4 linked regions of the Homo sapiens genome follow. The protein of the gene in region 1 interacts with the protein of each later gene in a pairwise test. Each region holds a gene or a part of one and is shown on either strand. Other genes may lie near its edges.

What was found. Proteins that work in one complex are often made in the same cells at the same time.
Region 2: the proteins of SLC7A1 (region 1) and LEPROT interact in binary tests that used the Homo sapiens proteins (3 or more experiments, as listed by UniProt).
Region 3: the proteins of SLC7A1 (region 1) and MGST3 interact in binary tests that used the Homo sapiens proteins (3 or more experiments, as listed by UniProt).
Region 4: the proteins of SLC7A1 (region 1) and CBLIF interact in binary tests that used the Homo sapiens proteins (3 or more experiments, as listed by UniProt).

The regions. Positions count from the first base shown.
Region 1 is NC_000013.11:29,515,689-29,519,188, reverse strand, and holds part of SLC7A1 (high affinity cationic amino acid transporter 1), read left to right. Parts: intron 1-1,398; coding exon 1,399-1,616; intron 1,617-1,878; coding exon 1,879-2,045; intron 2,046-2,942; coding exon 2,943-3,051; intron 3,052-3,500. UniProt on the Homo sapiens protein: High-affinity, low capacity permease involved in the transport of the cationic amino acids (arginine, lysine and ornithine) in non-hepatic tissues.
Region 2 is NC_000001.11:65,433,588-65,436,507, forward strand, and holds the end of LEPROT (leptin receptor gene-related protein), read left to right. Parts: 3' UTR 1-2,420; downstream 2,421-2,920. UniProt on the Homo sapiens protein: Negatively regulates leptin receptor (LEPR) cell surface expression, and thus decreases response to leptin. Negatively regulates growth hormone (GH) receptor cell surface expression in liver.
Region 3 is NC_000001.11:165,634,234-165,637,733, forward strand, and holds part of MGST3 (glutathione S-transferase 3, mitochondrial), read left to right. Parts: intron 1-3,500. UniProt on the Homo sapiens protein: Displays both glutathione S-transferase and glutathione peroxidase activities toward oxyeicosanoids, as part of cellular detoxification as well as synthesis of bioactive metabolites.
Region 4 is NC_000011.10:59,839,000-59,842,499, reverse strand, and holds part of CBLIF (cobalamin binding intrinsic factor precursor), read left to right. Parts: coding exon 1-57; intron 58-1,175; coding exon 1,176-1,357; intron 1,358-3,500. UniProt on the Homo sapiens protein: Promotes absorption of the essential vitamin cobalamin (Cbl) in the ileum. After interaction with CUBN, the CBLIF-cobalamin complex is internalized via receptor-mediated endocytosis.

The DNA of each region.
Region 1 (3,500 bases):
TCTCGGTCCAACTATTAGGCCAGGATCCTGGGATCAGAAGGTTTGAAGACTGATTGCAACTTGGTTCAGATTCTTGGGACAGAGAGGATTGAGGGCTGCCCTGGTAGGAGTTAGGAAAACCCAAGGCCTGTGAAACCCAGCTCAGCATAATGCTTCTGCAGCTTCGTTGCGCTGTGGCTGGAGGAATGAATCCCATTATGTGGCATGGCGTGCCCTAGGTTGATGTTCAGAGACACTGTGGAGTCAGCTTGTTATAGCCTGGTGGGGGCCAGGCAAGCCTCTCCCAGTCACAGTAAAGCTGCTCTGGGCCTAGGCTTGGTGTCTCGGTGTTCTCACCTGCCTCAGCACCCACTCCCAAAGCACATCCCTGCGCAGCTTCCATCCTGAGAACCTGTGCTCATGGAGACGCTCAGCACTGGTCTCCCCTCAAGAGCCTCCTCATTTCTTTTCAGGGATTCCCACCTGCAAGGCCATTGATTGCATTTCCAAGGTGTTCAGCAGCTGATGCACATAAAACCCGGGCTGAGCCTTAGCAGAAGCTCTTTAGAATCAGCTAAGACTATTGGGGACCCCTTATTCCTCCCAAGGGGCCCAATGCTAGAATATTCTCTGAGGTCTCCCACTTTCTTAATTGACCGAGTGGGGTTGCACAAGTGAATCCATACAAAAATGGTTAATATCTTTATACTCCCTCTTAGAATTGATCATATGCAAAATAATTCATACAGAACTCTGTGTTTCAAAGCTGGTGGAAAAGATTTGCACTCTGTTCATTTCGGGTGGGAAGATAAGGCACCTCATTCAGAATGGATGCTCCACTAGCAGGTAGCTCATGTCTTGGAAATCACGCTGCAGGCTCGGCCCTCCAACAAGCCACATAGAATTATTTACCCTAAGGTACTTGGAGTTTTAAAATAAATTGATCCAATTAAGTCACACAAATAGAATTTCTCAAATCCATCTAGCCTGCAGCCACATTTCTCTGGCTCTCTGTGCCAAATAGGATCCTGGCATTACTGCTTCCTATTTCTCTCCTTCCCTTTTGCTCCCTACAGCAGTAATTTTGTGGGAAGTGGCCTAGTATCTTTAGCATCTGAGGGCCGCTGCCACTTCTCAGAGCAAGAGAGATCCTCTCAGGGTATTCCTCTGGGCTGCTCATGGTGGAGGTCATGTCGCCCCGAAGGAGAGACCATGGAGGATGTTCCCCAGAAGCAACAGCGGGAGGTGGTGTTCCCGGTCTCTCCTCGTCTATCTACAATGCAGCATTTGACTATATCCTTCCCATTTTATACCTTGTGTCCCGGGCAGCTCACTTTGGAGGCTTATTGAGAACTTGAGTTGGTGCACGTCATTTTGCTTGAAGCAGATGTGGCGGTCACGCAATGCCTTTCTTCCCAGGTACCAGCCAGAGCAGCCTAACCTGGTATACCAGATGGCCAGTACTTCCGACGAGTTAGATCCAGCAGACCAAAATGAATTGGCAAGCACCAATGATTCCCAGCTGGGCTTTTTACCAGAGGCAGAGATGTTCTCTTTGAAAACCATACTCTCACCCAAAAACATGGAGCCTTCCAAAATCTCTGGGCTAATTGTGAACATTTCAACCAGCCTCATAGGTAAGAGCTAGCCCTTCCCTGGGGCCTTGCTTGTTGGCATTGCATGGTTTCTAGGCAGTGGAGCTGGAGTTGGGGGAAGGTGCCAGAGAAGATGAGCATCTGTCTTGCTCCTGGACTGGGACATAGTTACTCTGTGTTAACTGTAGTTGTGCCTTCGGAAATGGAGCCTCTCTCTCCACAAGTTTAGGGGAGAACAGTGGATGCCTGTGGGAAATTGGGAAATGGTTGAGTTGCAGCTTGCTGTCTTTTCCTTCCCCCTTAGCTGTTCTCATCATCACCTTCTGCATTGTGACCGTGCTTGGAAGGGAGGCTCTCACCAAAGGGGCGCTGTGGGCAGTCTTTCTGCTCGCAGGGTCTGCCCTCCTCTGTGCCGTGGTCACGGGCGTCATCTGGAGGCAGCCCGAGAGCAAGACCAAGCTCTCATTTAAGGTGAGCAGCTCGGCCTAGGGAAGGAACCCTGGTACACAGACCCTGGCCCTCCTGATGCCTGGCCAGCCCTGCGTGGGCTCAGCCGGGCCTGGGTGCTCCCGAGGAAGGTTTTTGCTAGCCAGCTTCAGGTAAGATGGGGCAGGGGTCCTGAAGGCACAGAGAGGACCAGACCCTGGAAGGAGGCAGCAGCCCTTCTCCCCTGGACGTTTCCCTGAGTAGTCAAGGGCAGGCTGACACCTTCCTGCATGACACAGGCCAAGAGAGACCTCGCCAGTCCCTGGATATTCGGCATCTATTTCTGAATTCTCTGGAAAATAAATGTCCCTTGTGATCAGTGTTTTATGAAATGTGCTGCCTCTTCCCCAGACAGTATCAAGGGTGCTGCTCATGAAGCCACTTGCCCCTAAGTTTATACATAATAGCAGACCCAGTGGAGCAGTCCCTCCGGGGTGGTGGGATGCTTCTCGTAAATGTCTGCTCAAGTTGATGCATGAGTTTTCCAAGCCTTGGAGACGGGCAAGGCTTCTGCATTTTTAGATTACACAAATAATAAAAAAGGTTGTTGACCTTAGAGGTAAAGTGGAGGTCCGTCTTCTAGTCCTTTCTTTAGCAGGAGAATCGCAACAGAGAAAAATGAGAATGGAGTTCATTTGGCCATTCAGAGCTTAGAATCAAATCCCCACCTACTAAGATGTACCCTTGGGTGTGTTTGTGTGTGTGTTTGGGTGCGGGCTGTGTGTGGGGTGTGGGAGTGGGGGTGGGCACTCCCTCTCTCTTCCCCACACTCGCCCGACGGTCCCTGTCACTCTCAGTTGTGCTGCCTTTACTAGACAGTTTTACTGAACTATTGGAACCGGCGCCACTGCCATGGATTGAAGCCACCTCCTGTCTCTTCAGGTTCCCTTCCTGCCAGTGCTCCCCATCCTGAGCATCTTCGTGAACGTCTATCTCATGATGCAGCTGGACCAGGGCACCTGGGTCCGGTTTGCTGTGTGGATGCTGATAGGTATGTGATGCTGCTGCCAGCACGTCCAAGATCCTGGCTTCCCCTGGGGGTCTCCCTTGTTTCAGATTTCATAACAGAATGACGCACATCCAGTCAGCAGCTTTCTCGAAGATAATGCTGAATCCCTGGTAGGCTGTGAGTCCTCTCCTCCCTGTTAGATACTTTTTGTTTCCATTGCTTCTTGTCCAAACTATTTATTCTTTTGGGCAAGACCTTGATATTAACAGGAACAAGGTGATGAGTCTGCTGCAGATAAGGTACCAGTTATTTTCACCCCAGACAGGAAAGTCTGGCCTGTGCCTCCTGGCCCCCTGGCCTGCCCAGCACCAAATTGGTACGGGCACTAGGCCCAGGCAGGGTGGATGTCATGGGCTCCTCTGTGATTGCGTCTTCTCTGTGGAGGGAGAGTGCTTTGGAGCCTATGGGAGATGCCACTAGGGTGGGGAGCT
Region 2 (2,920 bases), on another chromosome or scaffold:
GAAAGTAATAACTAAAGGGTTAATGTGCAACGTTATTTTTTGGCCTTGTTCATGATTTTATGTTTTCAGTGTCCTGTGTACATATAGAATTGTTAAAGTTGTCATTTCCAATATTTATATTAGAAAAATTATTTAGATACTTTATAATTTTAACCGGCATTTTTAATAATGACACTTGCATTTATTGTATTGTAATAAATTTCACTTTTAACTTTAAAAGTTTAACTTTAAAATTTTTTTGTGATGTTGCCTTGCCTGAAAAGATAACAAAAATGAGAGAATTTCTTGATGTTTTAAAATGGGCAGTTTTGAGCAATAATCTGTCCTAACAGAACAGTAGCAATAAGTTTTAGGATACCATCTTGAATGTCTAGTTGGTGTGCAATAGCTTTTCTTTCTAAGATGGCAATAATGATTCATTTCTACTACATTTTGCAAAAGTGTTTTTGTTGCTTATACACATTTTCAATAACCAAGGTAGCCTTCATATGTAGCCTTAAAGCATTACCTCTTGATTGTATCTTTAGATTGATATAAAGTACTTGCATATAGAGTATTTGAAGTGATAGATTATTAGATTTGCTCTATGTCTGAAAAGAGAGCTATTCTGCAGTGCCTAAATATCATTTAAACAGTAAATATTAATAGGAAATATTGCTATATCTGAATATATAATACAAAAGTTTGATCATGGTGACACAAATGTTGGACATTTTTTTCCTTATAAAAGGCTCTTTTTTTATATATTGTACAATATATTTGGAGATTCAGAGCATAGTGACTATAGTCGAAAACTGAGATTGCACTTCCAAAATTGGCCACAAGTAAATAATCTTATGAAGGGATTCTTTATCATGTTTCAAACAAGTGGGTTACAAGCAGACTTTGAGACACTTTTCCACAGAAACAATACTATGAATTGGTGATTGAGTTCCCAGGCCAAGCCTCCCTCAACAGGTTCAACTCTAATATACCTAACCTGTGATACTGAAGGTGCCTGCCTGAGTTTTGGGTCTCTGAGACAGGGTAGTGTGAGTAGTTTGGAGGAAGGACAGTGCAACTTTCCACCCCTTTTCCTAAGAACAAGGTCTTTCTCCTTTTAATTTTTCCACTCATTTTCACCTCCTAATGCCCTTGAGATCCAGGTACACTCCTGGGAGTTTTGTTCACCTCTCCCAACTGAGAACCTTCCCACTGGGCTCCATCCTCCCTCCTGAGGTTCTTCATATTCCAGAGTCACCCACCCTTCTCCTCCCATTAGTCAGTTCTCTAAGTACAGCTGATGTCATGTGGTGCTGAGAAGAAAGCAGATCACACTTCATCACAGAAAGAATGCCTTGTGATTATCTTCTCCACATCTGAAATTCCTTTTGACACCTGCATTGGGCCGACTGCCATTCCCATGACTGCTGCACCTGCGTTTTTAGAGAATGCCTCATAACCCACTGATTCTCATTCACAGAGAATGGGAGAACGGAATGAAGAAAGATTCCAGCAGCTTATAGAAGGATAGCAATATTTTGGGACAGGGAAAATCCTGTCATACCTCATCTCTTCCTCAGGAGGAGTTCTGAGCTGGTCCTGCTTTTCATAGTTGTTTCTTTTCTTCCACTTAAGAACTCATAGATTTTTCTTACTGTCCTAAGGAAGTCCTTACCTCTGAGGTATCTCCTCAATGAATACTGTTTTCAAGGCTGAAATAGTTCATTATGTTAATAACCTTCTTTATGTTCTCAGGGAAATGCTTAGGTGGTGTCACAAAATGTGCCTTTTCTTTTCTTTTTTTTTTTTTTTTTTTGAGGCAGAGTCTCGCTCTGTTGCCCAGGCTGGAGTGCAGTGGTGCGATCTTGGCTCACTGCAAGCTCCGCCTCCCGGGTTCACGCCATTCTCCTGCCTCAGCCTCCCAAGGAGCTGGGACTACAGGCTCCCGCCACCACGCCTGGCTAATTTTTTTGTATTTTTAGTAAAGACGGGTTTCATCGTGTTAGCCAGGATGGTCTCGATCTCCTGACCTCATGATCCGCCCGCCTCTGCCTCCCAAAGTGCTGGGATTACAGGCCTGAGCCACTGTGCCCAGCCAAAATGTGCCTTTGCAAAGTTTGCGAAATCAGATTTTGTATCCCAATAGAACCAAAATATTTATGAGGATGCTAGCATTTTCCAAGCATAGTAATTAGTTCACAACTGAGAAATATTATGTCTGTAGTAGATAAATATTAGTTGTGCATTTTAATTTAATTCTCCTTTTTCCATTTTGTCTCATGAAGTACCTTATTGCAAAAATCCCACTGAGTAATAGCTCATAAATTATAATCTTTCAAATAGCCATGCTACCAGCGTACAACAGTGATACATGTAACCCCAAATGTGATGTGAGAGGACGATTACTTTGTAAATAAAACTTGTTATTGACATTTTAACAAAGGCTTTTATGTACATTATTAAATGAAAAAGTTTATATTTTACTTTGCGGTACGTTACATTTGGAAAGGAGATCAGCAAGTTAATTTTCCCAGTGTTTTTGTCTGTATAATCTTAATGTGAATCTGACCAGTTTGAAGCCTGTACTTGCTGTAGTTGAAGAGAAACAGTTCAGGAATGTTGTGCTGACTGGAAGGAATCCAGGCCTTAATTTCTGTGGCTGACACTCCCCATGGTGGACATGGAAGATTGGAAAAGCTGTATTGGAAAAGAAAAAAACCTGACACCTTAAGAAAAGTGCTCTACATATTTTGAAGAGTCTTTTTGCACACTACAGAAAAGAATGCACTAATAGAAAGTAGTCTTTAAGGAATAATATGTCCTCCTTATGCACAAAACATTTGGGAAAGATCTGATGTTTTACTAGTGGATTTAGGCAGCCAGATTGTAAAGAAATCAAGCTAGTTATTTCTTTGCATTGCCAAGCTAAGTGTAAAGT
Region 3 (3,500 bases), on another chromosome or scaffold:
AGCACAAACTGGAGCCAGACTGCTTGGGGGTGTGGGGATCTGGCTGTGCTCTGTGATCGCTGTGTGACCTTGGGCAGGTCACTTAACCTTTCTGGTACTGCGTTTCTTCATCTGCAAAATGGGAGTAATATCATAGGGATGCTGTGAGGATCTAAATGAGTTAATACTGATGAACTAACTGCTTAGAACAAGGTTTGCCCCTTACTAAATACTGTGCACGGTGGTAATAAGTAATAATAATTGATTTCTCCTACTTTTCTTCCTCTAGTCTATATCACTACCCTTCAGACACACTGGACTCTTTTCTCTCCTTCATACAAGTCAAGCCTTTTTCTGTCTCCAAGTCTCTGCTCTTGCTGTTTTCTTTACCTGTGTTCTCTCTCACATATCACTTTATGCTCTTCAGATCCTTTGTCGCAATGTCACCCTTATGTTTTATGGTATGGTCCTGCTGTGTTTTTGTCTTCCCTGACTGCATGCTCACTCGTGCTCTCTCTCAATCATGCGCTCTCTCTCTCTCTCCCTCCCTCCCTCTCTCTCCCTCCCTCTCCCTCCCTCCCTCCCCCCCACTCTCAACTGTGTATTCTAGAGAGTCAGGACCTTCCTTCTCATTCTTGATCATTCTCATAGTAGCCCTGCCCCTTGAGTGGAACATGGCATTTAGTAAAGGATGAATAAGGGAAGGAATCATTCTGAGAAAATACTGAAGATGATAGCTATGGACTTGAGGCAAGCATCCCATTTAGGTAAAATGCTTTGTCCGACATTGAATTTATCATATCAGCTTCATTTAATGCATTATGAGATGTTGTCTTTATTTTTCCTTCTGTATCCCATGGCTTCTCACCATTCCCCTCCCCCTCCACCCCGCCCTCTGAGGTTGCTGCCTGCAGACCATGGGAAACATCCAGTGGGTTGTCCCTGGGATCACATCTCTTGGGAAGCTCAGCTCCAAAGGGTCTAGCAAAGCCCAGGGCTTCTAGGTTAGGTATCTCCCACAGAACCTTCTGTGTCAAGAATCTGGGAAAGTTTGTCCTTATACCTGCAGGGGAACCTGGAATTTATTCTGTCTTGTTATAAATCTAGTATTCTTAGATTCCTGAAGAACAGAATTACCAGTTTTTTCTCAGAGGAGATTTCATCAGGCATGTGTGTTTAGTGCCTTATTACACAGAAGGCACACTCCAGAGAAGAAGAAAGCAGGTAATTTGCTTATTTGGCTTTAACAGAGTTTCAACAGAGTTCGTGTGAGTGCAAGCTTGTGCTCTATAACCAAGAACCATTCACTGGAACTTGAGCATCCTGCTGATCTTCCCTCCCCCACTCCCAGCCAGTGCAGCCATGTATTAAGCAATTGTTTTCAGTACCAACAGTTTACCAAAGTGTTGGAATAAAAACGACATCTAAAACTTGAATATTTTATATGGCCAAACTATGGCTATTTAACTATACAGTTGAATATATTTGGATTATAACATATTTATCTCTTAAAGGGACAGATCTTCCATCCTCCTAACATATAGTTAGCTTCCACTCTCCAAATATTCCACCAGCAACATTGATGAATATTGAAGACTATGGACTGTGAGGTACTGTGAAAGACCCACTCTAGGACCTGCTTGCTGCTATTTGCCTTACTTGAACCAGTAATCAAGTGCTGGATAAATAATATGATTTCTATTCAACTTTTTGTTTTTAGCCCTTAGGGAACAATCTACTGAATATGCAATGCAATTGTCGGGGGATAGTTACTTTTCATTACCTAGGTTTCTGTTCCTTCTTTTAAGTGTAATTTAAATCTGGCTGTCATGAAGGTTTGGCGCTCAAACAGATTTTAGCATCTGTTTAATGTAGAAGTGGACTGGAACTAGCATTCTGAAAATGTAGTCTGAACCCAAAGAAATCCCATGACTCTCCTTTTCTGTCCTATCATAGAAACAGATAATTACATTTTTAAAGTTTTTGTGTGTGGGTGTGTGTGTTGTCATTTTGAGGTGGGGTTTCACCATGTTGCCCAGGCTAGACTCAAACTCCTAGGCTGAAGCAGTCCTCCCACCTCAGCCTCCCAAGTAGCAGGGATTACAGGTGTGCACTACTGCACCCAGCTTAAGTTTTACTTTGTTTCTAATAGATATATAATATTGGATATATTTATGAGATACAGTGTGATGTTTTAGTACGTATATACATTGTGTAATGAGCAAGAGGATTGCGTTTATGGGCCAGGCACGGTGGCTCATGCCTGTAACCCCAGCACTTTGGGAAGCCAAGGTGGGTGGATCACCTGAGGTCAGGAGTTCGAGACCAGTCTGATCAACATGGTAAAAACCCATCTCTACTAAAAATACAAAAATTAACCGGGGCGTGGTAGCACACACCTGTAGTCCCAGCTACTTAGGAGGCTGAGGCAGAAGAATCACTTGAACCTGGGAGGCAGAGGTTGCAGTGAGCTGAGATGGCACCACTGCACTCCACCCTGGCAACACAGTGAGACTCCGTCTCAAAAAAAAAAAAAATTGTTTTTATGTTACTTCCCTCTAGGCTCTTTAATTTCTCCATTGAGCATTGTGTGAGCTCCGCTGAGCATTGTATGGAGGGTCAGCTGCCCTGGCTGGAGATGGTTTTGAGGCTTGTTCCTTCGTGGAAACATCTGGATGCAGAAGTTAGGCTGTACAACTATCCAGGGGAGCTTTAAGTGAGCCAAGTGGACCCTCAGCACCACCTCAGAGTGTTCTAAGCTACCGTCTGGTGTTTGGGACTCAGGGAAGTCCTTTTGGTATGATCAGACTAGCCCTTTATGTGACTATCCTTGTGTGTTACTCTCATTAAAATATTGATTTTTGCCATGTAAGGAAGATTGGAATAGCACAGGCAGCCGAATAAGGATTTTAATGAAACATTGGAGAATGGCTTCAAGTTAATCTGTGAATGCTTTGTCATTGTCCCATCCCTGGACACATTAAAAAGAAAAAAAAGAGCAGTTGAGAAATTGCAGTACAATTTGAGGAGAGCAATATCATACACAGAAGTAGGGACTACTTTTGTCAAAGCTGGATTTTATTTATTTGGGAGCAAAGAGAGAGAGCTGAAAGACATAATCTTCTCTCCCTTAAGAATCTCATTGTCATTTAGTAAAATAAAAGGTAGTGTCACTTCATGGCTCAGAAGTGGTAAATTATTTGAGGCAGGTACCCAAATCCATAAAGCCTGCCTTTTGCTTTGTTTGTGGAATGCTGATTGTGTGCTGGGGAATTTCTGATGGGCAGCCAAGAGGAATTTGGGAAGTAGTGAAGGAGACCTTTACCCCAGGAGTGTTCTATTGGATGTAGTTCAGGAAGCTTTCTGGGTAAGCCTTGCAACCAAAGGAACCCTGCCCCAGTAAGATACGTCAAATGGTGGCAGAAGCAAGAATTAGAGGAAAGGTTGAGCAACATTTTGGTATTTGAATAGCTGTGTTCCCAGGAAACTCTGTCAGTAAAATTTCTAGAGGTTAAGTACCT
Region 4 (3,500 bases), on another chromosome or scaffold:
CGATAGCCGTCCGCTTTGCCAAGACCCTGCTGGCCAACTCCTCTCCCTTCAATGTAGGTGAGTAGGTCACCACTACCCCGAGCTGGGAACATCAGAGGCATCGTGAACTGAATGGTGGAGCTGGCAGGGAAGTGACAAAGGAGAGCGTCCCATGGAGGAGGAGCTAAGGATGTGAACGTGCCTGTGGATGGGAGATATTTACCAGATGTTTGTTGGGCAGGTGAATTGAGGAGTAAGTGAAGGAAGAGGGGGTAGTATTATGTAGAAACAAGGACAATTGATAATACTTGATATGTCTGGCAGCTACAGAATCTCCGCTGGGAACAATAGTAATGCCATTCAAGTCAGAAGTTCTTCCCAAATTAAATATGAATGTCTTGCTTCAGTTCTCCTCTGCATCCTCTCTTTAATCACTACTGATGCTCCCACACTCCATTCTTTTCGATGCTTCTCCTCATTACATCCAAATATCCTCTCTCCATTAAACAGCTACTCTCGGAACCCTAACTCGTGATATTTCCCTTCATGGCAACTCGGGGACCACCTTGCGTCTTTGTTCTGCAAGCATATGGCTGCTTGTGAATAGAAGCTTTTCCCTCTACAACATCATGTCCTCCTTCTGTCCCCTTCTATGGATAATGATCCTTCTCTGTGGGGGCCACTGTCACAGCCCGCATTCATGATCACCTTTTCTCCTCTGCCAACTCTCTAAGCAATAGTATTATCTCAGGTTTTCACTCCCTTATGCATGCCCCATCAGCAACCTCTCTTGTTTCAGTTTCTGTCAGACAAACAGGTGAACCACTGCTCTAGGATCCTCCCTGGGGGTTAAGAACAGACTGGTCTCCCTTTCACATCTGGGACCTCACACATTTCTGGGGCATCTCTGCCTCCAAAAATTTGGACTTATTTACTTCTGGTTGTCAGTAACACTAGCACCCTTAACGAAGTTATGCAACTTTCAAATGGAGATTTGGCCCTGCTGCTTACTTAATTTTTCTGAGCCTCCATTTTTTGTCTCTTAAATGGAGATGATTACAGGTACTGTTTCACAGGTTGTTCTGAGGAGCAAATAAAATCATGGAGCCAGAATATAATAAGCACACAATAAATGTTAGCTGTTCATATTGCTGTGATGGTGACTATGGTGATCTTATACCCTCTGTCATTCACAGACACAGGAGCAATGGCAACCTTGGCTCTGACCTGTATGTACAACAAGATCCCTGTAGGTTCAGAGGAAGGTTACAGATCCCTGTTTGGTCAGGTACTAAAGGATATTGTGGAGAAAATCAGCATGAAGATCAAAGATAATGGCATCATTGGAGACATCTACAGTACTGGCCTCGCCATGCAGGTAAACACGTGCTGGATGCTCTTGGTTGGGTTCCTGCCAATAAGCCTGGATTGCAGAATCAAGAGGCCAGGCTTCTACTAACATCTCTGTGAAAGTCCAGCTAGTATGACCTGAGATATATTCTTTGTGGTGCCTGGGCCTCAGTTTCTCTACTGGTAAAATGCAGGTAAGTGTTAATTCCTCCCTACCTCCTATGTAAAGTGTGAAAACAAATCTATATGAACTTGTTTCTCTTTCTTGGGAAAAAAAATGAAACAAATAAATCAAGAAATATATTAATTTATTATTAATAATGATCAGTTTATTTGTAATAGTTACAGACTATTACAATTTTGATGTATAAATAATAAGAATATTAAAGCAGGCCCTCTAAAAATATACAATTTTCTGATGCAATCTTACCAGCCAAGTGTTCTTTTTCAGTGTTTTACCTTGATCTAAAAATAGCAAGTTTATACTCAAAATGATTAAGGAAAATAACCTAAAGTTGACCCAGCCTCACAAAAACCCATAGTAAATGGTAAAGCAGATCTATCTGTCAGCCAAGTCCATATTCAATTCTGTGCTTTCACAGCATGCATTCCCAGGCTTGGATTCTGTAAGATGTGTTTGGTATTCATAGTTCCAAATCCAACAACCCACCCTACCCTAGTTGATTAGGGCAGCAGCCTCCATAGAAGACAGATGCACCAATGGTGGTGGGCAGAAATAACCAACTAGAATCAGAAACTAGCAACCATCTGTGGCTGAATCCTCTAATCCCAACTAAGAAGTTTGAGCTCCAGTGTCTCAAAATGTCCTATGGGGATTAATAGGACCAGGGACTCTTCAACTCAGAAAGCCCACTAAAGGGAGAATCATGGAATGGTGATGCCAGCCCTAAACCTAACATAGTTGCGGACTATTAGAAAGAAATTGTCTCCTGGGGAAAACAATGGAGACTAGTATTGAGATTTCATACATTAAAAATTAGAAAAGGATATAAGCAGCCTAAGAATTGGTTCATGTTAAACATAAGAGCAAAAAAAAAAAAATTTCCACTTCAATGGACCACATATAGAAGTGACTAATAAAAATAGAGTTCATTTCTATGTCACAGTCAAGGAGACTTTGTCATAGAACAAAACCCTGTTTTTTCCATGGCTGAATTTTACAAGAACATTCCCAGTGCTCTGGTCTAGAAGCTTTTTGGAAAGAAAAAGGCAGTCTGGAAGAGATATAAAAGATGGTTTGGGGATTTTTTTTTTTTATGTGTGACTCTCTAAAAATAACCTTGCTTCAATTTATCACCAGACAGTGAAGTGTTTACTTTTGCTAACTTGGTTTGTGAATTCTGTTTGGATTTTATCACCTGCCAAGTACACTTTGATAAGCTGTACCTGGGAATTAGAGCTTTTCCTATCAAAAGGCAGGACCCTGTCTACATCCAAATACCACAGGCCATGTGGATTTCTTGTCAGAATACATAATCTCTCCCTACCCTTTTTACTGCCTCTATCTGGAACTTATTTAGGCATCCTGAAATCTGGAATCAATAGGTGTCTAATATATAATATTTTCCTAATCTAAAATATTCTGATATAGAAAATCAAAGGGCTCTGGAACTATCACAATTTAGGTTTGACTCCCACACCTGCCACCATCTCAGACAAATATTGAATTTCCCCAGATTTTATTTTCCCCATAATAATAAGGTTGCAATTAGGTTAAATAAAATGTGGTATGCAAAAAAATGCATGCATAATGTAATGCTTAACAATTGTTCAAGATCTGTCTCAGCAGAGCAGTGATGCTAGTAAAGTTCCTTTTCAGCCTTTGTTCACCTTCTTCCAAGATGTCAGTACACTTCCAGTGGCCCAGGCCACACTCTTCCCTACCCAAAGACGCTCATGAGGCATTTCCTCTGTTCCAGAACTTCTCATCTTTCTTCCATGAATATCCTATTGCTTTCAAGTTTCCTCTGATAGGCGCTTATCTTGAAAAGGGATCTGATAGGCCAGGCGTGATGGCTCACACCTGTAATCCCAGCACTTTGGGAGGACGAGGCGGGCAGATCACTTGGGGTCAGGAGTTCAAGACCAGCCTGGCCAATATGGTGAAACCCCATCTCTACTAAAAATACAAAAATTAGCCTGGTGTGCTG